7 linked regions of the Homo sapiens genome follow. The protein of the gene in region 1 interacts with the protein of each later gene in a pairwise test. Each region holds a gene or a part of one and is shown in the gene's direction. Other genes may lie near its edges.

Evidence for each region.
Region 2: the proteins of MGST3 (region 1) and TFRC interact in binary tests that used the Homo sapiens proteins (3 or more experiments, as listed by UniProt).
Region 3: the proteins of MGST3 (region 1) and FXYD6 interact in binary tests that used the Homo sapiens proteins (3 or more experiments, as listed by UniProt).
Region 4: the proteins of MGST3 (region 1) and SNORC interact in binary tests that used the Homo sapiens proteins (3 or more experiments, as listed by UniProt).
Region 5: the proteins of MGST3 (region 1) and ARL6IP6 interact in binary tests that used the Homo sapiens proteins (3 or more experiments, as listed by UniProt).
Region 6: the proteins of MGST3 (region 1) and FAXDC2 interact in binary tests that used the Homo sapiens proteins (3 or more experiments, as listed by UniProt).
Region 7: the proteins of MGST3 (region 1) and NKG7 interact in binary tests that used the Homo sapiens proteins (3 or more experiments, as listed by UniProt).

Annotation. Positions count from the first base shown.
Region 1 is NC_000001.11:165,651,734-165,655,233, forward strand, and holds part of MGST3 (glutathione S-transferase 3, mitochondrial), read left to right. Parts: intron 1-244; coding exon 245-302; intron 303-2,545; coding exon 2,546-2,618; intron 2,619-3,500. UniProt on the Homo sapiens protein: Displays both glutathione S-transferase and glutathione peroxidase activities toward oxyeicosanoids, as part of cellular detoxification as well as synthesis of bioactive metabolites.
Region 2 is NC_000003.12:196,075,591-196,079,090, reverse strand, and holds part of TFRC (transferrin receptor protein 1), read left to right. Parts: intron 1-1,968; 5' UTR 1,969-1,991; coding exon 1,992-2,027; intron 2,028-3,500. UniProt on the Homo sapiens protein: Cellular uptake of iron occurs via receptor-mediated endocytosis of ligand-occupied transferrin receptor into specialized endosomes. Endosomal acidification leads to iron release.
Region 3 is NC_000011.10:117,870,159-117,873,658, reverse strand, and holds part of FXYD6 (FXYD domain-containing ion transport regulator 6 precursor), read left to right. Parts: intron 1-3,500. UniProt on the Homo sapiens protein: Associates with and regulates the activity of the sodium/potassium-transporting ATPase (NKA) which catalyzes the hydrolysis of ATP coupled with the exchange of Na(+) and K(+) ions across the plasma membrane.
Region 4 is NC_000002.12:232,873,264-232,876,231, forward strand, and holds part of SNORC (protein SNORC isoform c precursor), read left to right. Parts: intron 1-2,191; exon of another isoform or gene 2,192-2,234; coding exon of another isoform or gene 2,235-2,292; intron 2,293-2,330; exon of another isoform or gene 2,331-2,542; intron 2,543-2,568; exon of another isoform or gene 2,569-2,676; coding exon 2,677-2,859; intron 2,860-2,968. UniProt on the Homo sapiens protein: Plays a role in the regulation of chondrocyte maturation and postnatal endochondral ossification. May inhibit cell growth stimulation induced by FGF2.
Region 5 is NC_000002.12:152,728,620-152,732,119, forward strand, and holds part of ARL6IP6 (ADP-ribosylation factor-like protein 6-interacting protein 6), read left to right. Parts: intron 1-3,500.
Region 6 is NC_000005.10:154,819,604-154,823,103, reverse strand, and holds part of FAXDC2 (fatty acid hydroxylase domain-containing protein 2), read left to right. Parts: intron 1-526; coding exon 527-632; intron 633-1,677; coding exon 1,678-1,844; intron 1,845-2,631; coding exon 2,632-2,788; 3' UTR 2,789-3,500. UniProt on the Homo sapiens protein: Promotes megakaryocyte differentiation by enhancing ERK phosphorylation and up-regulating RUNX1 expression.
Region 7 is NC_000019.10:51,371,120-51,374,143, reverse strand, and holds NKG7 (protein NKG7), read left to right. Parts: upstream 1-1,489; 5' UTR 1,490-1,608; coding exon 1,609-1,765; exon of another isoform or gene 1,766-1,836; coding exon 1,837-1,983; coding exon of another isoform or gene 1,984-2,069; coding exon 2,070-2,204; intron 2,205-2,308; coding exon 2,309-2,367; 3' UTR 2,368-2,524; downstream 2,525-3,024.

The DNA of each region.
Region 1 (3,500 bases):
TCTCTACAAAACTTAGCCAGGCATGGTGGCACGCACCTGTAATCCCAGCTACTCAGGAAGCTGAGGCATGAGAATTACTTGAACCCGGGAGGCGGAGGTTGCAGTGAGCTGAGATCATGCCACTGCATTCCAGCCTGGGTGACAGAGACACTCCGTCTCAAAAAAAAAAAAAAAAAAATTCATAATTCTACACAGGCATACTTAAAAAGGGCACTTTTTAAAAGTTTCTTTCTGTCAATTCCAGGTTGGAAGTGTATCCTCCCTTCTTATTTTTTCTAGCTGTTGGAGGTGTTTACCACCCGGTAAGTTTTCCAGGAGGTGTTCATCTATTTGGATAGTAGTTCACTGAGCTATTATCAGGGACAGAAGAAGGAAATAAACATTTAATGAATATCTTCAGTGTCTAGGCACTGCATATTTAAAAGGATTTTATTCAATTATTTCTTACAGAGTTCTTTAAAGGAGATGGGATTTTCCTCATATTTTACAGATAAGGAAAAGCCTCTCATATACTATTTAAACTTCACAAGGTCAAATAGCTACAGAGTAGAAGGATTAGAATTTGAACTCAGGTCTGTCTGGTTCTAAGTTTCATGTCTATAAGAGTTCATTTGTTATAGTAATTCATTCACACAACAAACTTTCACTCACCACCTGGGGTAAAGCAGTGATCAAAGCAGACAAAGACCCCTGGTTTCATAGAGCTTGCCTTTTTGTTGTGGGGTGTGGGGTGGTCACAGAGAAGAAGCAACCTAAGTAAATTACATCATGTGTTAGGAGGTGGTGAGTGCAGAGAAGAAAACAAAGTGGGGAAGGTGGAAAGGGGATGTGGAGTGGGATAATTTTGAATAGGGTGGTCAGGGAGGGGGGCTTTGCTGAGATGATAGTTAAGCAAGTATAAAAGGAGGTGAGGGAGCAGGTGCTGCACGAGTTTCCCCAACCTCCAGCCAGAAGACAAGCAAGGCCTGAGGCAGGCACCTGTCTGGTTTGTTTGGTGAGCAGTGAGAAGCCAATGGAGCCAGGAGAGGGGCAGCAACAGAGGGCAGAGGGGTGATGAGGCAGGTCACTGGGGACTTGCAGGCCTCTGCAGTATAGATAGCCCTGTGGGATGGAGATTTAGTCTGCACTTAAACATATCTAAATAAAGCAAGTTTATCAGCCTCTAATTAATTGCCATTTGGGTCTTGTCTTAGACAGAAGTGTTCCCCTTTTCTGAGGACAGATTATCTCCTGAAACCAAGTTCTGACCAGAGTGGCCCTTCAGACTTCTGGTTCTAAGCCTTTCCTAACCATCTGGTTCATCCTGAATGCCTTGTACTTTTGTTAAAAAGCTGCCAGAATGGCATATCTACTGCTTATGACCTTGAAGGCCTGCATTTTTTTCAAAGAAACATCTACTGCTCTTGTATCTCTTAGAAAATGTATCTTTCTGGTGCCTCTAAAGATCCCCATTCCTAGCAAGTGACTAGACTAGCTGATCTGAATAGCTCAGGTCTCTAGATTAGTCCTCATTTGGTGTCCCCACTCCATCCCCATTCCTATCACACATCCCTGGATCCCATTCCTTATGGGTAGTTCTGAAAAATAAGAGCTAGTTTGGGGACAAGCACCTAACAATTGTTCCTAGGTTGCCAGTCATTAGGCAACATTATAGTAAAGAAGGGCCTGGCAGAGACTAGAGCTGCTATATCGTGACTTGAGGGACTGGTGTTATTTTCATTTGTTTCACCCTCCTGTTGACATTTAATGTTACCCAAAATCAACTCAAACAAACAAAAACCCTGATGCAGTAACCTTATCCCTAACAGTAGCACTGCTGAGTGGGAAAGACACTGGGGAAGGCGGCCTTCTCACATGCTGTCTTCTGTGTTCTCTCCTTGCTTATTTTAACCAAGGAAGTCACCCCAGCATGACAGCCAAAGGGATGGATTTTTCATCTAAGTTTTTATTCTCTCTTCTCAAGGACATTGGGAACAGGGAGACTTTTCCCTCGAAGACCATGTATTCTGGGAGAAGCGCTCCCCTTCTTTCTAGTGGAGCTACACCCCCAGTGTAGCCTGCAGAACCACCTGAGCCCAGCCCTGCCAGTGACTGACTTCACATAGAACAGCAGCTGAGTCTTCAGTCAATCTCATGCTCAGAGGCCCATTTGAGAAAACGGCATTTCCCCTAGTCCTGACTTTGGGGCAGTTCTCTTTTCTGGCCTGCCCTGAGACCGGCTGGCCCACATGTCCTTCTCTTGAGCTCTGACACAAGTTCCCCAAGATGCCCAGGGCAAGTGGGGGGATTCCTTCTATCCCACCTGTCTAGGAGAAGGCCAATACTCATCTCCCAGGTCCACAAGCCAAGCCATTCATAGAAGAATCACAGATATTTTATTTTCCCGCTGAAACTAACTTAATTCTACCTAATTTGCGTGGGGAGTAGTTGGCCAAATCATCAAATTGTTAACTTTTTGCTAACATATTGTGTAATCAACCCTAGGTGTTAAAAAAGGTTTGCTTGTTTCTTTCATGCAAATACTAATGTAGCCCTTTTTTCTTAGCGTATAGCTTCTGGCCTGGGCTTGGCCTGGATTGTTGGACGAGTTCTTTATGCTTATGGCTATTACACGGGAGGTTAGTATATATTGACATTTGCCAAGGAAACAACTTTAAAATTTTAAATCCTATGCTGGCCAGGCACAGTGGCTTACACCTGTAATCCCAGCACTTTGGGAGGCGAAGGCAGGCAGATTGCTTGAGCTCAGGAGTTGGATACCAGCCTGGGCAACATGGTGAAACCCTGTCTCTACAAAAAATACAAAAATTAGCCGGATGTGGTGGTGCACACCTGTAGTCCCAGCTACTTGGGAGGCTGAGGCGGGAGGATTGCTTCAGCCCAGAAGTTTCAGGCTGCTGTGAACCATGATTACACTACTACACTCCAGCCTGGGAGACAGAGCAAGATCCTATCTCAAAAAAAAATAAAATCTTATGCTACTATATTTTTTTTCTTGGGAATTTGAGAAAAGGGGAAGTCACCTGATATTTAGGTGAAAGGTCTGTTTTCTTTTTATTAATCTTTCAATTGTAACGAAACTTATTTTTATTGAGCATTTTCTATGTGCCAACCACTACTCTAAGAACTTTGCATATGTTATTTAACCTTACAACAATTCTGTAATACAGATATTATTGCATTTTACAAATTAGGAAACTGGGACTCAGCATGATTAAAGCTGTAGGTCACAGAGCTACTAAGCGTAAACTAGTAAACTAGGAATCAAACCCATGCAGTCCGACTCCAGAGCCTCACCATTACTATACCTCCTATATCTGAGTAAGGAGGAGGAAAAGCCATTTTTAGCTGTACTTCTTTGAAACAGAGGGAACTCCTTCCAAAGGTCCTAGAGCAAAGTTGCTGTAATTATTATCCCATAATTTTCTAAGATCCAAGCAATACTACTGTGGCACGTTACTTGGCATGTGGTATCTGACTTGCCAACAGCTTCAGGCTAA
Region 2 (3,500 bases), on another chromosome or scaffold:
GGCTCACGCCTTCGATTTCCTTGGGATGTTCTTATCAAGTAACTAATCTTAGCACTTTGGGAGGCCAGGTGGGTGGATCACCCTAGGTCAGAAGTTCCAGACCAGCCTGGCCAACGTGGTAAAATCCCGTCTCTACTAAAAATACAAAAATTAGCTGGGCATGGTGGTGGGCACCTGTAATCCCAGCTACTCGGAGTCTGAGGTGGGAAAATGGCTTGAACCCGGGAGGGGGAGGTTGCAGTGAGCCGAGATCCTGCCATTGCACTCCAGCCTAGGCAACAAGACCGAAACTCTGTCTCAAGAAAAAAAAAAAGATTATGCTTCTAAGAATATGGTCTATTGCATATGGACACTGGTTTTTAAAGCTTGAATTTAAAAAGAATTTTTTGTAATAGGTTTTAGAGCTTTTTCTTTTTCTTTTTTATTATTTTTTTGAGATGGAGTTTCACTCCGTCACCCAGGCTGGAGTGCAGTGGTGCCATCTCGGCTCACTGCAACCTCCACCTCCCGGGTTCAAGCGATTCTCCTGCCTCAGCCTCCCCAGTAGCTGGGATTACAGGTGCCCACCACCACGCCCATCTAATTTTTGTATTTTTAGTAGAGATGGGGTTTCACCACCTTGGCCAGGCTGGTCTCAAACTCCTGACCTCGTGATCCACCTGCCTCGGCCTCCCAAAGTGTTGGGATTACAGGCATGAGCCACCGTGCCTGGCCAGAAAGCTTTTTCTTAATGCCAGTTATAATACCCTTTGCTTTACAATTTGCGTATACCTCACAGCTTGCTTTGTGCCGTGTGTGTTTAATATGCCCTAAGTGTACTCGTATATAGGAAAAGCTTTAAAATGGTATCCAATAAATGTCCATTTTGCAAATCTCAGGATAATGTCATTTTCAAGTATCTAGATGCCCTCAAACCAAATTAACTGGAAAATTCAGATTTCAGTTAAGGCCTTTAACTTAACTTAGGACTTTGATTACAGAGATGTATTTTGCTTTGACAAAAGTTAAGGTTAATGTCTTAAATTTCCAGAGATGATAACACAATTTCTATAACCCAGTAACCCATTTAACTTCGCTTAGATTATCAATTTTCAGCCTTGAACAGGCCACTTAGTTTCTCTAATAACTGGCCTCTTCATCTGTAAAACAGCGTAATCTGTGTTTCATGTTTCTTCTTGTGTCAAAGATCGAATCACTTGTAGGAACTATTCATTCAGTCAGGATCAGTATTTCTTCCCCTTCCCATTGGAGATGGTTTGTGGTATTTGTAGCATAACTGGTCTTGTCTGCCTTAGTCTTAATTTTGTCTTTTTGTATGTGTCACTTTCTTTTTTTTTTGAGACAGAGTTTTGCTCTTGTTTTCCAGGCTGGAGTGCAGTGGCGCGATCTTGGCTCACTGCAAGCTCCACCTCCTGGGTTCACGCCATTCTCCTGCCTCAGGCTCCCGAGTGGCTGGGATTACAGGCGCCCACCACCACGTCCGGCTAATTTTTGTATTTTTAGTAGAGACAGGGTTTCTCCATGTTGGCCAGGCTGGTCTTGAACTCCTGACCTCAGGTGATCCACCCATCTCAGCCTCCCAAAGTGCTAGGATTACAGGTGTGAGCCACCCCGCCCAGCAGTATGTGTCACTTTTGTCTACTCAGAACATAGTGGTTCGTACTTATAATTGCAGCACTTTGGGAGGCCAAGGTGGGAGGATTGTTTGAGGCCAGGAGTTCAAGACCAGCCTGGGCAACATAGGGTGACCTTGTCTCTACAAAAAGAAAAAAAAAGAATTATGTATATAACAAACTTTAAAAAGGATCCCACTTAATTTAGTTGTCATGTAAACTATGGTTAAATACCTTTTCTAGAAAAGTGATAATGTATTTTAAAAATTTAATGTATCATTTAGCCTGGTAATAGAAAGCTCACTAATCTGATACAGTAGTATCTTTCTCAATAATTCTCTATTCTGATACCTAGGTTCTTCTGTGTGGCAGTTCAGAATGATGGATCAAGCTAGATCAGCATTCTCTAACTTGGTAAGATATTTTCAGTTGTATTTCTGTGTCTGCAAGAATGTGAAATATACAAGCATGACTTTAACTGAGTAAGCATGAAATAATAACCCCAATCTATTATCAGGTATTCATTTACATTTGAATTGGTAGTCTTGAGGCATAACTGATCTCACAAAGAGTTCAGCCTTCAGTAGGGTTAATTATGGAAAGTCTTGGAAGAATTCTCAGAGTGGTTCTGGGTGTGGTAGACGGGGACAGCTTAGTAGATAAGACGAATTAAAGCCCTGATCAAAATGTTTTAGTAGGAGAAGTAAAAAGCAAAGGCTTGCGGGGCGCTGTGGCTCACGCCTGTAATCCCAGCACTTTGGGAGGCTGAGGTGGGTGGATCACCTGTGGTCAGGAGTTCAAGACCAGCCTGACCAACATGGTGAAACTCGGTCTCTACTAAAAATACAAAAAAAAAAAAAATTAGCTGAGTGTCATGGCGCATGCCTGTAGTCCCAGCTACTTGGGAGGCTGAGGCAGGAGAATTGCTTGAACCCGGGAGGCGGAGGTTGCAATGAGCTGAGATCACGCCATTGCACTCCAGCCTGGGCAACAGAGTGAGACTCCGTCTCAAAAAAAAAAAAAAAAGCAAAGGCTGAATGAGGCCAAGTGTGGTGGCTCACTCCCGCAATCCCAGCAGTTTGGGAGGTGAGGCAGGAGGATCACTTGAGGAGTTTGAGACTTGCCTGGGCAACATAGCAAGCCCATCTCTATTAAAAAAAAAATGAAATTTTAAGAAACATTGAGTAGACAGTATGAGTGAAAGCTGAAAGAACATACAAAAAAAACAGCCATCCAGGCCATGACGAGAAGGAGCCTAACTCTTAACACTCTGTCTAGACCTCAATTCTCTCTTATTTGTATTTATTTATTTATTTATTTTTATTTTATTTTTTGAGATGGAGTCTCAGCCTGGGCTCTGTTGCCCAGGTTGGAATGCAGTGTGCAATCTTAGCTCACTGTAACCTCCGCCTCCTGAGTTCAAGCGATTCTCCTGCCTCAGCCTCCTGGGTGGCTGAGATTACAGGCGTGCGACACCATGCCCAGCTAGTGGTTTTTTTTTTTTTGAATTTTTAGTGAGAGGGGATTTCACCATGTTGGTCAGGCTTGTCTCAAACTTCTGACCATAAATGATCTGTGTGCCTCGGCCCCCCCCAGAGTGCTGGGATTACAGGCATGAGCCACTGTGTCTGGTCTATTCTCTCTTTTCTGTCTTCTATCTTATGCTTAGTCAGAATTTCTGCTTATTTATAACTTTGTTTTATTCTTGCTCCCTTGCTCCCACCAACATCATGGTCTGGGTTACTGCATAGTATCCTGAACTGATTTGTGCCCCTAGTCCCAGCTACTCAGGAGGCTGAGGTGGGGGAATCAGTAGAGCCCAGGATTTTGAGGCTGCAGTGAGCTGTGATCACACCACTGTACTCCATCCTGGGAGAGAGAGGGAGA
Region 3 (3,500 bases), on another chromosome or scaffold:
GCCCCCCAATATTCACCTTCGAACAAATCACCTTCTGAGCACCCTAAGGGAAGCAAACCAGTCAAGAAAGGCACAGCCCCAAGGAGGCAGGGAGCCTGCTGTGGAAAGGCCGGGTTCTAGCCCCAGCTCTCCCCCTGAGCTTCCGTGCTACCGAAAGGCAAATGCGTTCATTGCACAAATATCCCTTTGGATGCAAACTGGGCTTCTGGTGAAATCCAGAAATGGCTTGGACTGCTCTTCAGCAACTGAAAGCCTTTCGGATTTTAGACCTTTGTTTCCGCATCTGTCAATAGTGGGGTTTAGACTCATGATTTCCAAGGCATGTCTTCCTCTAAATTTGTGTGGATTATACAATCTTGAAAGAGATCCCTTTTCTCTCCAGGTACCAAATAGTACTCATTATTTCATAATACAGGGCTGCAGCTGAGCTGAGCTGAGCAGGAAGGGGCTGGGCTCTGGTTACCCTGGAGAAAGTTTCCTTTTCACCCAGTGTGGCAGAAGGTGCCCTAGAAGCTGAAACCAAGTTTTTTTCTTTAGGGCTGAGGGAGCCACCTCCTCCTGGATGCTGTGGTCTACCTGGCCTTTTCTACCAGGCTGCACACTGGAGGCGGGCGGCGGTTGGGGGGGGTTCTTTAAAGAGTTGTTCTCTGGAAGAGACAACTGGAGAGGACTGGGCTGTCATTTTGGAGGTCCATGAAATCTTCTGCAGGGAGAACCCCTGGCCAGCTGGAGAGTTGCAACGAGAGGGGCCGGTCGGGAACACAGTGCTCTGACACCGTCCCTGATGAGAGGCAGGACATCTCCGGCCGAAACAAAAGCATGGAACCAATTTGGCAGCATCATCTCTGCTCCAGAATCCGGGGAGGGAGAGGTCCCGACCTGGGAAGGGATGAAGCCAGCTTGTAGGCTGCGCAGGAACATGTTTGTTACAAAGATGTGGGAGGGAGCACACAGCCTGGGAAAGGGGCTGGGCCCCCACGGACCAGGCTGGGGCCATGGGAATGGGGCTGCCCCAGCTCAGAATATCTGATGTGGGCAGAGAGGGCCAAGGATGAAGGGGTGTAGTTAGAATAACAGTGACCCCCACGCAGCTGGAGGACAAAGCCAGGCCCACACTGAGAGACCAGAGGCTAAGGTTTCAAACTCCCTCGTTCATCCTTTTAATAAATGTTCCCCTCATATGTCAGGCAGGCCCTGTGGGCTTCTGAGGTTTCTCCTTTGCTGGAGCCCTCCTGCTCAGGTAGATCAATGGGCTTGTCCTGTTCCTTCCTCTCCCCTACTGTCCACCTCATGTCCACATCCTACCAGGAGGCCCTGCGACTTTCTTCCTCCATAGGAAGAGCCCCTCCATGCAATCACGGGTGCACTTACACTCTCACACACGTTCCCTTCCTCACACATATATAATCTCCCACACCCGACAGGGAGGCAGTGGCTCACACATTCTCACACGCCCTGTCACCTCTCCCGAAGAGCTGCAGTCTCTCAGACCATGGTGATGGCCTGTGAACGTCCACCCTCTCAGCCCATTCCATTTTACCCACTGATGTTACAGCTCAGGTCCAGGTTTGCCACTCCTCTGCTCAAAAACCTCCCCAGGCTCACCAGTGCCTATTAATAAGCACAGGTACATGGTGTAGGCACTCCAGGCTCAGCGTGACCTGGCTGCAGCCACCTCTGCAGGCACCTTCTCCAGATGGTCATCCGAAGCCTGGTACTGTCTCACCCTCTGCCTGAGCTCAAGCCGTTGCTGGAATGTGCCGAGTAGAGGGTGGCAGTCTTTGTAGACACACAAACTTGGATTCTAAACTGCATTCTGATGCTTCCTGGATTTCTTCACTTTGCTAAACCTCAGTTTCCTTACCTGTCAAATGAGTGTGAGGACAGTATGAGGCGAGCTGTGTAAAGGGCTCAGCATGCTGCCTAGCATGGAGTAAACACTCAGGAGATATCAGCTGCTGTAATAATGATAGTAATGACACATTATTAGGATTATTAGAATGGCATTATTATTGTTATATCATCCTTCGTGGCTCCTCCCAAGTGTTTATTCTTTCAAGTAATTATTCCATATTCCCAATAAACAGGCATTAAAATTCCCAATAAACATACTCATATACCGTGAATGTCCTGTCAGTTCTTCCTTGAGAGCACACACCTGCATTTTAGCTGCAGAGGGACACGCCCCGCCTCCCACCCCGCCCGCTCCACTGCACCGCCTCTCAATGGCAGGTCTGTTCTCCCCACGGTGCCTGGCACAGTGTCAGACACGTGGAGAAAGCCCAGTGAACAGCGTGTGTGCTGTGACACGCATGGGGAAGAGTCCTCATCACCAGGAGGTGTAGACACCTAGTCGCCCTTCCCGGCTGTCTCCCATACGCCGGTGCACACCACGCGTTCCCAAGATGCACATCCCTTTATTACCGTGCGTCACCTCAGTCTCCCACTTGCTTTGGTAGAGTCTAGAAACTAAGAATTTGACCCCATCTGAGGTCTGAGAGATGCTTAAAAGCTGAAGTCAAAGGAGAGAGGCTGATTCCTCACAGCATTTTGGTAGTTGGGATTTGACAGAGACACAGAGATTAGAAATGAGGCAATGGAGGAAGGAGGATACCGAGAAAGTTTTAAATGCCTGAAAAATTCCCTACAGATCCTTTGGTTGTTCTGAGCTTAGAATGGATTTGATGTAAAGGGATAATGATGCTGAAGCGTCCTTTCATTCACACATCAACATTTATTGAGCAGCTGCTGTGCTCAGTGCCAGGGATCCAGAGATGGCCAGAGTGTGCCTGTGCTCCCAGGGAGCTATGGTGTGATGGGGGCATACACTGGTGACAGCCCTACATGGGAAGGGGTGTAGGCCTTGGCTCTGTGGGTATGAGGATGCATTGAGGGGAGGGAGGGGATAATGTGTTTCCTGAAACAGAGACAGAGTCAGGTCAACAGCCCCCTCCTCTAAAGGCAGGGCACATTTCTGGGTATCCAGGCCCGTGGGTCAGGGTTCATCTTCATGCCACTTCTACCCCTAAAAGGGAGACAATATGAAATTGTGCAAAGTGCCCTGTAGGCTGAAACATGCAGGCCAGAGCTGTCCTTCTAAAGAGGTAGGCAGAGAGAGCAAAGGGGGCTGCCTGGTGCTGTGGCCTGGCTGTGGGCAGGGTGGCGTGGGCCTGGCTTCTGGGTTCCTGGCCCTGGCAGCTGCTCTGGGTTTCTGTGTCTGCTGCTGGGACTGCTGTCTGTCCTGTCTTGAATGGGCCTTTGTCAGCAGGTGTGTGGGGGAGGTGATCCCATCCTGGCCTGACTCCATCACGCCCTGCTGGGGCGTGCAGCCTGCTGGGGCCCCAGCCTGTGGCTTCTGTGCAATACCACTCACCATTCAGACTCTCTGGAGCCAGACCGAGATCTCCTGGGGAACCAGAGGGGCCTCAGCCCCTGTGCTGGCAGGCAGGAGGCCTGAATCCCACTCTGACTCCCTCTGGGCAAGGCGCGGCATTGGCCTG
Region 4 (2,968 bases), on another chromosome or scaffold:
AGCTTCATGGCCTGGCTGGACAGGAGGGGGCTGTGTACAGTGGGAGGAGGCCAGGGCAGGTATGTCTGGTGGTGGGCGCAGCAGAGACAGGCTGGGTCACGGGGGACAGATGGGGACAGGGCCTGAGTGGGGCTCCCCACTGCCCTGCTCAGAGGGTACCGTCAAGGGTGGCAGCTCACCCCTGCTGGGCTGGCCTGGGTACTGAGCCCTGCCTTCTCAGGGGCTGGAGGCCTGCCACTCCTCGGCTGATTCCCGCAGATGCCACCCGGCTCAGCTGGGCCTGGTACCCAGAAGCCCTGCCGCGGCCTCCAGATGCAGGGAGGTGCCTACCTGCCAGTCTGTCTTGGGTGTGTCATTTGTCCATTTCTTTGGACATGTTCAGGCAGTCAGTGAGCCTAGACCCTGGTGCCTGCCAGGCGGTGGGCGCACTCAGGCCTTTTACCTGCCCAGCCCCCAGAAGCCTGAGGCAGCACGCCAGGGGCCTGGGGCCTTCCATGGGGACTGCAAGGCTGCAGACCCCTGCCTTTCTGGCTGCGACATGGGAGGCCTGGCTGGGTCACTTCCCCTCCTCTCAGGGTGGTCTTCAAGGTTTGCGGGAGGCTAGAGAGACATCAGTGCTACAGTGCAGCCTTGGGCCCCTCGGGAGGGAAGCCTCCCCCAGTTGGGGGCCAATGGGCCTTCCACCCATGGGGCCTCCTGCCAGAGGTCTTTTCTGGAAAGGGGTTCTGCCTTGGGCCAGCCCTGGGGAATGTGGCAGGTCAGGTGAAAGGTCAGCAAGCTGTCTCAGAGCTGAGCCTTGCAACTGACCTCTCCAGGCTTGAGAGAGGCCCAGAAGCCAGGGACCTGCTAACATTTTATTGTGGAAAGATGTGAAGTTTACAGAAAAGTTGCACAAATACTCCAATGAACTCCAGGAGTCCATCCACCTAGTCTTGCCAACTGCCAACATTTTGCTACATTGCTGAATCCTCTATCTGAATGCTGAAATCATTTGAGAGTAAGTTGCAGAAGTCATGTTCCTTTGCCCCTAAATTCTTCCTAAGAACAAGGACATTCTCTTAACACACCAGAGTCAGCTATCAAAACCAGGAAGTGAGCACTGAGGCAGTCCTAAGCCACACCCTGTTCAAACTTCACCAACGGACCTGAGTCTCCGATCACAGGCCTGTCCCTCCCCGTCCAGGAACATTGAGCTGTCTCCTTAGTCTCTGATCTGGAACCTTTCGGCCTTTCTTTGTTTTTCCTAACTTTGACATTTGGGAAGGCCCATTTACTTTAAGACTGACCCTGAGTCTGGGTTGGCTGATGTTTCTGCGTGGTTTGCCCTAGATGGACACAACTGGCCAGAAAACCCTGGAAGGACCTCTGTGTCTTCTCGAGCATCCGCCTCTCTGGGTGCTGGTGAACCTATGAGGAGGGCAAGTGTCTGGCTTGACTCTTGCCCCAGCGCTCAGGGATGGAACCCGCAGGGACAAAAGGTGCCCTAGGGTCGCCGGCTGGCCGGCAGGGTCTGTTCACAGAACGGCAGCCTCCCTGCACTGTTTCTGGGCAGCACAACCGCTCCTGCAACTGTCCAAGGCCTTCAGCCCACCTGTGCTCACCACCACGGCACCTTATCCCCAAGCCTTGGCTTTCTTGTCTCTGAAATGGGGATAAAAGCAGTTCCCACACCACAGAGTAGCTGGAGTCAAAGAGATGAGGTGTTGGGACATCCCCAAGCTCATCCAGGGAACCGGCTTGAGGGTCGAGTGTCCCTGGATCACAGTCTCTATCCCAGTTGAGATTAGAGCATGGGGCCGGCCGCAGTGGCTCACACCTGTAATCGCAGCACTTTGGGAGGCCGACACGGGTGTATCACCTGAGGTCAGGAGTTCAAAATCAGCCTGGCCAACATGGCAAACCCCGTCTCAACTAAAAATACAAAAATTAGCTGGGTGTAGTGGCAGGTGCCTGTAGTCCCAGCTACTCCGCAGGCTGAGGCAGGAGAATCGCTTGCTTGAACCCGGGAGGCGGAGGCTGCAGTGAGCCGAGATTGTACCACTTCACTCCAGCCTGGGCACAGAGCAAGACTCTGTTTCAAAAAGAGAGAGAGAGAGATTAGGACATGGGCAGGCCTGCCCTGCTAACACTGTGATGTCAGATGGTCTGGCTGGGCTGGAGAGGCCAAGAGCCGACCTACCATCCCCATGTTGAGCTTTCCAGCGTTTCTGGGGCATCCTGTCTGGTTGCCGGGGATGGATGGCCCAGGGTTGGAGTGGTGGTCAGGGGAGGACAACTGGGGTGGGCTGGCTGGTGAGGATACAGGGCGGGGGTTATCATGCAGGCGTCTCAGCCTGTGCTTTCTGTGGGACTGAGAATGTCTCCTTTCTGCTCTCTGGTCCCTGGGTACCCCAAATCCTGCCAACTCCCAACCCTATAAGCAGAGAAGGGCTTTGTGGGGGGCACCTCCCTTACACTGAACAGACACTCCTCCTGCCCACCCACCGGCCCTGCCCAATGGGAGGCAGCAACGCACTGGCTTCAGCTTCTTAGCCTGGGAAATGTGAGGGCTAGTGCAGCGCTGAGCCCAGACCCCTCACACAGCGCTACCGGCAACTTGCTTAACCTAGAGGTGGGGGGTGACGTCCCTGTCGGCCCCGTCACCTGGGGCCCCAGCACCTCTCCTTGGCTTTGCAGACGATGTTCCACAGGAGCCCGTGCCCACGCTGTGGAACGAGCCGGCCGAGCTGCCGTCGGGAGAAGGCCCCGTGGAGAGCACCAGCCCCGGCCGGGAGCCCGTGGACACCGGTCCCCCAGCCCCCACCGTCGCGCCAGGACCCGAGGACAGCACCGCGCAGGAGCGGCTGGACCAGGGCGGCGGTACGGGCGGGGCGGGGGAGGGAGGGGAGAGGGAGAAATTAGGAGGGGCGGGGGGCGGGGGGCGCGGGGAGAAGGGCCGGCCAGGCGGGGGCTAGCAGGTGACATGGTC
Region 5 (3,500 bases), on another chromosome or scaffold:
AAAATAAGCCAAAACAAATATACCCTTAGATAGGTGTCTATAATATTCCAGCAAAGGGATTGGGATAGGAAATTCCTACCCATCCCTGTTTTTGCTTTGGATGAAAACAGTCTTAAGAGGTTTCAATTGATGGAAAAGATTAGTATACATCATTTCATTGGCCAGACGTGGTGGCGTCTGACTGAAATCCCAGAACTTTGAGAGCCCCAGGCAGGCGGATCATGAGGTCAAGAGATCAAGACCAGCCTGGCCAACATGGTGAAACCTCGTCTCTACTAAAAGTACAGAAATTAGCTGAATGTGGTGGTGCACACCTGTAGTCCAGCTACTCTGGAGGCTGAGGCAGGAGAACTGCTTGAACCTGGGAGGCGGAGGTTGCAGTGAGCCGAGATTGCGCCACTGCACTCAGCCTGGCAACACAGCAAGATTCCTTCTCAAAAAAAAAAAAAAAAATTAATATACATCACTTTGGCTGGGCACAGTTGCTCACGCCTGTAATCCCAGAACTTTGGGAGGCTGAGGCGGGTGGAACATGAAGTCAGGAGTTCAAGACCAGCCTAGTCAAGATGGTGAAACCCTGTGTCTACTAAAAATACAAGAATTAGCTGGGTGTGGTGGCAGGCGCCTGTAATCCCAGCTACTTGGGAGGCTGTGCCAGAGAATTGCTTGAACCTGGGAGGTGGAGGTTGCCTGGGTGGCAGAGCCAGACTTTGTCTGTGTGTGTGTGTGTGTGTGTGTGTGTACACACATATATGCACACACATCATTTCATCAACTGATGAATATTGAGCTGTAGAGAAGAACGAAGGATGTGTGTATTTATTTAAAAGCCTGCAACCTTTGGTAGCAGTTATTCTGGAAATTTGTAACATCTATGTCCTTGTACAACTGTACCCTTAAATACAAGAATGTTCCTTGGAGCATTGTTTGTAATAGAGAAAAGCTAGAATTAAAAAAAAACACACACACAACAGAACTGTGGCTGTGGGTGCTGATAGGAAAGGTCTCCAGAATATGTGAAAAAAGCAAAATGCAGAACCATTTTTCTGGTGAGAATCTCACTTGTGGAAAATAAGCTGAGAAGATATATATACGTTTTATATATAACTAGCTTTATATATGTACCTGTATTACCTAGATATGTATATAATTTTTGGAAAGATGCACACCAGACTCTTAGCTGATCACTTTTAGGAATGAAATTGGCAAACTGAGGAAGGAAGAATTTCATTTAATATGCTTTCATTTTTATATTCTTTTTAAAGTTGTTAATTCTTTCTAAGGGCTTATAAAACATCAAAATTTTAGCATGAGGATTCTGCAGGTACTGACTTGTAAAAAATTTAGTTGTTGGGGAGTTACCATTTTCTGTGGCTTTTCTGCTTATTTGCAAATGAATTAGGTAATTTCCCGAATCATAAACACTTCTAGACCACAATATTGCAATGTACTTTTTTTACCCCTATCATTGTGACCTGACTTACCCATGATGCAGCTTCTGATTAGTTTAAAATGAACATAAAATAATAAAAATGCTCAATGCGAAGTAAGTACTTAGATTGTGGAATAGTAATTTTGGAAAAACTCAAGAATATTCTTGTATTAAATTTGACAGGTACCCTATTAAAGCACTCAAGTGAAAAAGTTCAACAGGCTTTAGAAAGCCTCACATTTGATTATTTTTATGTTACTTTGTGTCTTTCCTCACTTATCTAGAAGTTTCATCGTTCTATAGCAGTCCCCAAACACTTTATTTTTCTTAACTATCATCTTTGTTCTGGAGAAGTATGTTAAACTTTGAGTAAACTTGTCAATTATTTTCTCCCCTCTTTAGACATAGTCATCTAAATAATAGCAAATAACAGCTATTTGGCAGTATAGCAACCCCTAAGTTGTAGTTGTAGACTAAATCTTATAATTTTTTTTTTTTACCCTCTATCCTGATAGATTGGTAGGAAGGTTATTCTAAGGTTCTGTTCACCCAATTCCAGGTTGGGTTGAGGTGCTAGAGGTGGATACTGTGCCAGGATATTGGGGTGAAGGTGCAGACTAATCCTCAAGACATTTGCTATAGTGAGTATTGAAGTATCTTTTATTGTGGTCAGGATGGTGTTTCAGATGTGGCAACTTCCAGCCACATGACCATGTGGTGTTTCTATGCCAGGCTTAGGGCAGAGGCATCTGCAGGCTTGGCTCTGTACTTACCTACCAAGATACTGTACACAGCTATACTCCCTGTGTGGTTTTGCATGGGCTTTTCTAGATGCTTTTGTCAGGAAGCCCCAGTAGCACTACTCCCTTTCCCCATTTACACACATAAGTGCAAACATGCATACAACCTACTTTATTTAAACTAAGGAAATCTTTCTCACTTGTCGATAAGCCCCTCACTCTCTCCCTGTTCCACACAAACATTTTATCTGTACTCCAATCAACTCATTGTCTTTGCTGTGCATTCAAGACATATTGTGTTTATCCACACTCCTATCCCTGATTATATCTGTACACTGGTTTCTGTAAATATTGTGCAATGTAAAGTAGAAAAACAGGCTATTTCTTCTTTCTGCTTTGCCACATCCCTCTTCTGGAGAAATGAACACAGAGCCCATTAGCTCTTTAACAGGTGGGAGATGGGAGGAGGGAACTATCAGGAGATATAATTTACCACACTTTCTATTAATAATTCTTCTGAGTCTGTACTTTAACAGTTTTTTCAGTCTGTTACTGAGCTTCACAAGATTTACAAACAGTCCATTGCATGTACTTTTTACCTGCTTCTTGCTAAAATAAGACTGGTGGATAATTTGTATAGTCAGGAAATTTGATAATTCGTAAGTCATCTGCTAGGGTTCTCAACTCTTCCTGTATTCTTGAGGCATGGAACACACTCTCAGAAACCTGTTTTAAAGACGCAGTTTAAAAATGAGTCCACAAAGATTCTGATACGACCTCCTTGCTGCTCCTCTGTTCAAAAAGTACTACCTGACTGAATTTTTTTATTTTTTACAAATTTACTTAGTTCTATTTTGAATAGGTAGAATAGTCATATGGGTCAAAATTCAAAAAGTGTAAAAGAGTATAGACTGAAAAGGCTTACTCTTTTCTCCCAACCACTCTTTCCTCCCTCCTCAGAGAACCAATGTTAAATTCTTACATCCTTCCAGAAATTTTTTAAAATATCTAAGTACAATATACATTTCTTCATATATACAACATATGTATATATGTATGTGTATAATACATATTTTCCCCTTATTTATACAAATGCATAGAGCTGTTCTGAACTTTCAGTTTTTCAGCTCACCAGTATATTTTCAGGATCTTTCCATATCAGTACCTAAAGAGCTTCCTCATTCATTTTTATAGCTGCATAGTATTCTATTGTATGGATGTACTTAATTAACCAATCCTTTACCTTCATTACTGATAATTTAGGTTGTTTTCAATCTATGTTATTATGAACAAAGCTACAGAGAACAATCTTGTATATACATCATTTT
Region 6 (3,500 bases), on another chromosome or scaffold:
GGAGGTCAAGGCTATAGTGAGCTGTGATCACACCACTGCACTCCAGCCTGGGCGAAAGAGCAAGACCTTGTCTCAAAGAAAAAAAATAAAAGGGAACAGGCTTCTGAATTGAGTGTAGGCCAGTAAAATACTCCCTGGCCTCAAGTGTCCCATTAAATAGTTAACAGGGAGACCACTAGTTGTCTCATAACTGACAACTTGGGACAACTGAGGAATGAATGTCCAAAAGAGAAAAGGCCTCTCTGATTGTGTGGGAGCCAGGGCAGTTTCCCATTCATTTCCTTATTCAGTCCTTTCTGGGCAGCATCCCATTTTACAGCGAATACAACTGGCATAGAGAAGCAAAGCAACCCACTCCCAAACTATGCAGTATAAGGGCTGGGGTTGAAATTTGAAGGCAGGTCTTGGTGTTGTTAACTTTGCTCCATGGATGTAACCCCTAGTTCCTATTTTTGGTTTCTCATGGTCTGGTCGGGGAGGGAGAAAGAGGAATCAGCAGGTTATTAACTATTAACTATTTCCCCAGGCTCCTTCACCACCCAACATTCTACAAGAAAATCCACAAGAAACACCATGAGTGGACAGCTCCCATTGGCGTGATCTCTCTCTATGCCCACCCTATAGAGCATGCAGTGAGTAGAGCTCTATGCTCCCCAGAGCAAAGGGCAGATGGCCCCAACCACCTTCCTGAAGGTCTCCTGCAGAGAACTTAGACCACACCGGCCCTTTTTCTTCCCATTTAAAAATAGCTACCATTTATTGTCAGCCTTCCATATGCCAGGCTATGTTAAGTGCTAACACAGTTGTCTCATTTAATCATCCCAACAACTTTCTTTTTTTCTTTTTGAGACAGGGTCTTGCTCTGTCACCCAGGTTGGAGTGCAGTGGTGTGATCATAGCTCACTGCAGCCTCCAACCCCTGGGCTCATGTGATCCTCTAGCTTCAGTCTTCCAAATAGCTGAGACCACACGTGTGCACTTCCAAATAGCTGAGACCACACGTGTGCACCACCAAATCTGGAGTCTCACTGTGTCATCTTGGCTGGAGTGCAATGGCATGATCTCGGCTCACTGCAATCTCCCGCCTCCCGGGTTCAAGCCATTCTCCTGTCTCAGCCTCCTGAGTAGCTGGGATTACAGGCGTGTGCCACCACGCCTGGCTGATTTTTGTATTTTTAGTAGGACAGGTTTTCACCATGTTGGTCAGGCTGGTCTCAAACTCCTGACCTCGTGATCTACCCGCCTTGGCCTCCCAAAGTGTTGGGATTATAGGAGTGAGCCATCGCACCTGGCCACATCTGGCTAATTTTTAAATTTTTTTGTAGAGTCGGGATCCTGCTATTTTGCCCAGACTGGCTGGAACCCCTGGCCTCAAGCAATCCTCCCACCTCTGTCTCCCAAATTGCTGGGATTACAGGCATGAATCACCACACCTGGCTCCTCCAACAACCTTTTTAATCTTAATTTTGCTAACAAGAAAGTTGAGGCTCAAACTGCGTAATTTGTCCCAAGTTACAAAGGTGAATGCCTTCAACAAATCAAAGTCCCGAAACTCTCACCTTCTCCAGATCTGGGTCAAGGAAGTTTGCCTCTGGTACCACCTTGGGACTAAGTGTATACCCAACTAAGTCCCTTCATCTCCCTGGACCCTGCCTTCAATCATCCCTCCTCTTGCAGGTCTCCAACATGCTACCGGTGATAGTGGGCCCATTAGTAATGGGCTCCCACTTGTCCTCCATCACCATGTGGTTTTCCTTGGCCCTCATCATCACCACCATCTCCCACTGTGGCTACCACCTTCCCTTCCTGCCTTCGCCTGAATTCCACGACTACCACCATCTCAAGTAAGGACCTTCTCCCCACAATGGGTCCCTAGGCAACAACCATCACCCTCCCTCCTTAAGCTTCTGATAGCAGGCACTGGTATCTCAGTTTACATGTGAGTGCTAGTTGGGGAAGAGGTCTGATGGCTGGGAAAATAACCACACTGGGATGACCTTACTCTTTTCCTTCTGAAATTGGGTCCTCCTCCAACTGGGGGTTTTAAACCTTTATTTGGACTCTGGGCCCTTTGAATAAGCTCTGGACATTCTCTTTAGAAAAGTACATATATGCATAAAACTCCTGCAGGCAATCACAAGGAAGTCATGTATCTCTGAAAGCCCCAGACTTTTTCAAGTGTAGTCTACAAACCTCCTATACCAGAATCACCTGAGATGCTTGTTTAAAATATAGGCTCTTGAATTCCACTCCAAATATGCTGAACTAAGGTATCTGGGGGAGCAGGGCCTGGAAACCTGCATTTTAGTTAAGTGTTCCAGGGGATTCTGATGCTGGTGATCTCATACCTGAAGAAGCCTAGTTCTGCTAGAGATTCTCAGACTGTGGGCATCAATCACACAGCAAGCTTTTCAAAGGAGGACTCCAGATACGGCAAATTGCAGGTTTGGAGTGGCCCCCGGGAGATGCATTGGTAGCAACTCCCCAGCTTATTCTGATGCAGATGGTCAGGATGGTGGTGACAGGTGTGGGGTAGGAGGGCTGAGAAATGTGTGAGGCTGGCACAAATGAAATGGGATCTGCACGGAAGCCTCCAGCATGGGCACTGCAGTGCCGTCCTCTCTCTTCTAGGTTCAACCAGTGCTATGGGGTGCTGGGTGTGCTGGACCACCTCCATGGGACTGACACCATGTTCAAGCAGACCAAGGCCTACGAGAGACATGTCCTCCTGCTGGGCTTCACCCCGCTCTCTGAGAGCATCCCAGACTCCCCAAAGAGGATGGAGTGAGAGACAGCCTAAGTGTCATCCTGGCTGTCCCTCAGCCATGGGATGCAGACACGGCTTCCTGATTGCACCTAACAATTTGCCTCCTTCGGCCACACGCCCTAATGATGGCACCACCAGGGTAGAGGGAAGGTCGGCTTCCCGGAAAAGCAGGGCCAAGGATGAGGCTTTCTTCAAACTACTGCCCTTGATGTCCCTCAATGGGATCAGGAGTTAGCTTAAGAAAAAGGAAAACACAGCTCCCCAGACTGGAGGCTGGTCAGAGGGAGGAGACCCCTGGTCCTCTGCTGTGGAAGGAGAGGGGTTCAGCCCCAGATAACTCCTTTGTGGCCTGGGCAGGATGCAGAGAATGACAAGGCTGAAAGGAGGGGGACTGGAGGCTGCCTGGCTCCAGCGAGAGCTCCTTCTGGGACCAGAGGGTGGGACGGCCAGGTATCACTTTGCCCCTTCCTGCCCCAAAAGGCTTTCACATACCCGACTCAGGCCAGAGCCAAGACACCCTGGCAAATCATTATAGGTCTCAATTCATGACATACCAGATGCCAGTCGCCACTTCACCCAACACACACACAAACATACACACACCAAACACTCTGAGTGAGTGGTAAAGGCCCCGTTTTAACTCTGGCCCACCGCAAACAAAAGGTTTCCCTCTGTGGGGGAGAAAAAGAAATCCAGGAGCTCCTCCCTGGATTAAAACCAACGAGGTGCAGAC
Region 7 (3,024 bases), on another chromosome or scaffold:
CGAAAATCTACTAAACCTGAAATCTACTAAAAATACAAAAATTAGCTGGGTGTGGTGGCGGGCACCTGTAATCCCAGCTACTTGGGAGGCTGAAGCAGGAGAACTGCTTGAACCTGGGAGGTGGAGATTGCAGTGAGCCGAGATTTTGCCACTGCCCTCCAGCCTGAGTGACAAGAGTGAGACTCTGTCTCAAACAACAACAACAACAACAACAAATGCCTGAGACTGGGTAATTTATAAAGGAAAGAGGTTTATTTGATTCACAGTTCAGCATGGCTGGGGAGGCCTCAGGAAACTTACAATCATGGTGGAAGGTGAAGGGGAAGCAAGCCACTGTCTTCACAGAGTGGCAGGAAGAAGGCCAAGCGAAGGCAGGAAGAGCCCCTTAAAAAAACACCATATCTTGTGAAAACTCACTCACTATCACAAGAACAGCATGGGGGAAGCCGGCCCCATGATTCAATTACCTCCACCTGGTCTCTACCTAGACACGTGAGGATTATGGGGACACAATTCAAGGTGCGATTTGGGTAGGGACACAAACCCTAACCATATCACCGTTTCACAGAGGTCAAGTTTTCCTGGGCCTTCTACCTGGGCTGTGGTACCGTCACCTTATACCTGCTCGTAGATGAGGTGTTGCCAGGACCTGATGGTGTGGATGGAAGAGGCTAGCGTTTGGGGGGCTGGAGAACCCTAAACCAAAATCCTTATGTCCCCCAACACCCCCTAGGCCCCCCGATCCTGGTGATAAAGGCCACCAGGCTGGAGCCCCCACCCAAGCAGGGATGCCACTGAACTCATTAATCAGATGAGGATGTGGGTATGTCTGACTCTCTGCAAACCTTTCAGAATTGTGATTCTCTGCTGTTTGCCTGCCCTTGGCATATGCTCCAAACTGGGGCCCAGGATTCTGAGCTCCTGCCCGCCTCTTCCTCCCTCAGGACCTGGAGTTCAGGCCCCCAGCTCCTTCCTCCTTAAGCCCCAGGAGTTCTAACTCCCAAGTCCCCTCCTTCAGTAGAGACCCTAGACTTGGGGACTTCCTCTCCCAGAATGGAAGACTGCATAACCCACAGGAAAGCATGACACATCCCCAGCTGTCCCCTCCAGCCACATCTGCCCTCCCCCTTAATGTACACCCTAGCCTGATTGGCTTCCTCCCACCTCAGGGCCCCCAAGCCTCTCTCTCTCACCTCTTCCAGGAAGCCCCGACTTGGTGTTGAAGGTTCCATGGGTGGGAGTTGTAGAATCTGTGACAGAGGCAAGTACTAAACCACCGCCCAAACCACTGATGATCTGACACCCTCAGTGCCCTCCCCCATCACACACTAAGCGGGGAACTGGACCCCAGGGAGGGGAGGGAGGACGTTGCCTGTGCAATCCAGGAAGGGAGGGTATGTGAAAAGCTACCGGGAACTGTGTGAAACCAAACCAGCCTCATGTGACAAAGCGCAGGACCCCTCACTGCCCCAACTGCTTGCTGTTCTCTCTTTCTTGGGCTCTAAGGACCCAGGAGTCTGGGTGCACAGCCTCCTTCTCTCTGAGATTCAAGAGTCTGATCAGCAGCCTCTTCCTCCTCCAGGACCCAGAAGCCCTGAGCTTATCCCCATGGAGCTCTGCCGGTCCCTGGCCCTGCTGGGGGGCTCCCTGGGCCTGATGTTCTGCCTGATTGCTTTGAGCACCGATTTCTGGTTTGAGGCTGTGGGTCCCACCCACTCAGCTCACTCGGGCCTCTGGCCAACAGGGCATGGGGACATCATATCAGGTAAGGGGAATGGGTGTCCTACAGAGGGGTTGCCAGCGGGGATGGGTGCTCAGTGGTCTTCTCCCGATCAGGCTACATCCACGTGACGCAGACCTTCAGCATTATGGCTGTTCTGTGGGCCCTGGTGTCCGTGAGCTTCCTGGTCCTGTCCTGCTTCCCCTCACTGTTCCCCCCAGGCCACGGCCCGCTTGTCTCAACCACCGCAGCCTTTGCTGCAGGTAAGGACTCTGGACTGGACTGGGGCATCGCGAGCCAGCGAATTCCTGCCGAGGAGCTGAGCCATCTCTCTTGTCCTTGTCCCCAGCCATCTCCATGGTGGTGGCCATGGCGGTGTACACCAGCGAGCGGTGGGACCAGCCTCCACACCCCCAGATCCAGACCTTCTTCTCCTGGTCCTTCTACCTGGGCTGGGTCTCAGCTATCCTCTTGCTCTGTACAGGTGACTATCCTGCCCACTGCCCTGGGGAGCTTTGGGAGGGTCCAGTTGGGGTCCCTGAGGACAGAGGGCAGGGGCAAGTGCTTAAACTCTTTCTGGCTCCCCAGGTGCCCTGAGCCTGGGTGCTCACTGTGGCGGTCCCCGTCCTGGCTATGAAACCTTGTGAGCAGAAGGCAAGAGCGGCAAGATGAGTTTTGAGCGTTGTATTCCAAAGGCCTCATCTGGAGCCTCGGGAAAGTCTGGTCCCACATCTGCCCGCCCTTCCAGCCCTTCCCCAGCCCCTCCTCTTGTTTCTTCATTCATTCAACAAAATTTGGCTGGAATCTGGTTATTTTGAGATTAATTCTGCCAAGACATAAGCCAACTGTCTGCCAGCTCCATGGTAGGAGCTGGGCACCAAGGGAAGGTGAGGGCCCACCAGGCCGACCAGCCTGCAGGGCGCTCCTGCCCAGTACGAGTGCCCGGCCCGTGTGGACACAGGCTCCAACCCGTGTCTATGTCTCCCCTTCTCCAGCACTTTTCTTCCTCCCTGTGTCTTTCTCCCTTTAGCTGGCTCTCTTTCCTTCTCTCTCCCTCTCTGATTTTGTCCCCCTTGCCAGAACTCAGCCCTTCCTTGCACTCAGTCAGTTCTCTTTGCACATTTCCCCATGCTGGGGACACTGGCACGGGTCAGACCCAGGCCCTGCCCAGCAGGGGCTCAGTCTGTGGGGTGGTGGGGAGGAGGCACTTACAGACCAGAAGCAGTTAATACAGGCCAGACAGCAGTCCCAGTGCAGGGAGAATGCCGGAAAAAGACTGACCATATTGTGGAGGGATGGAGACG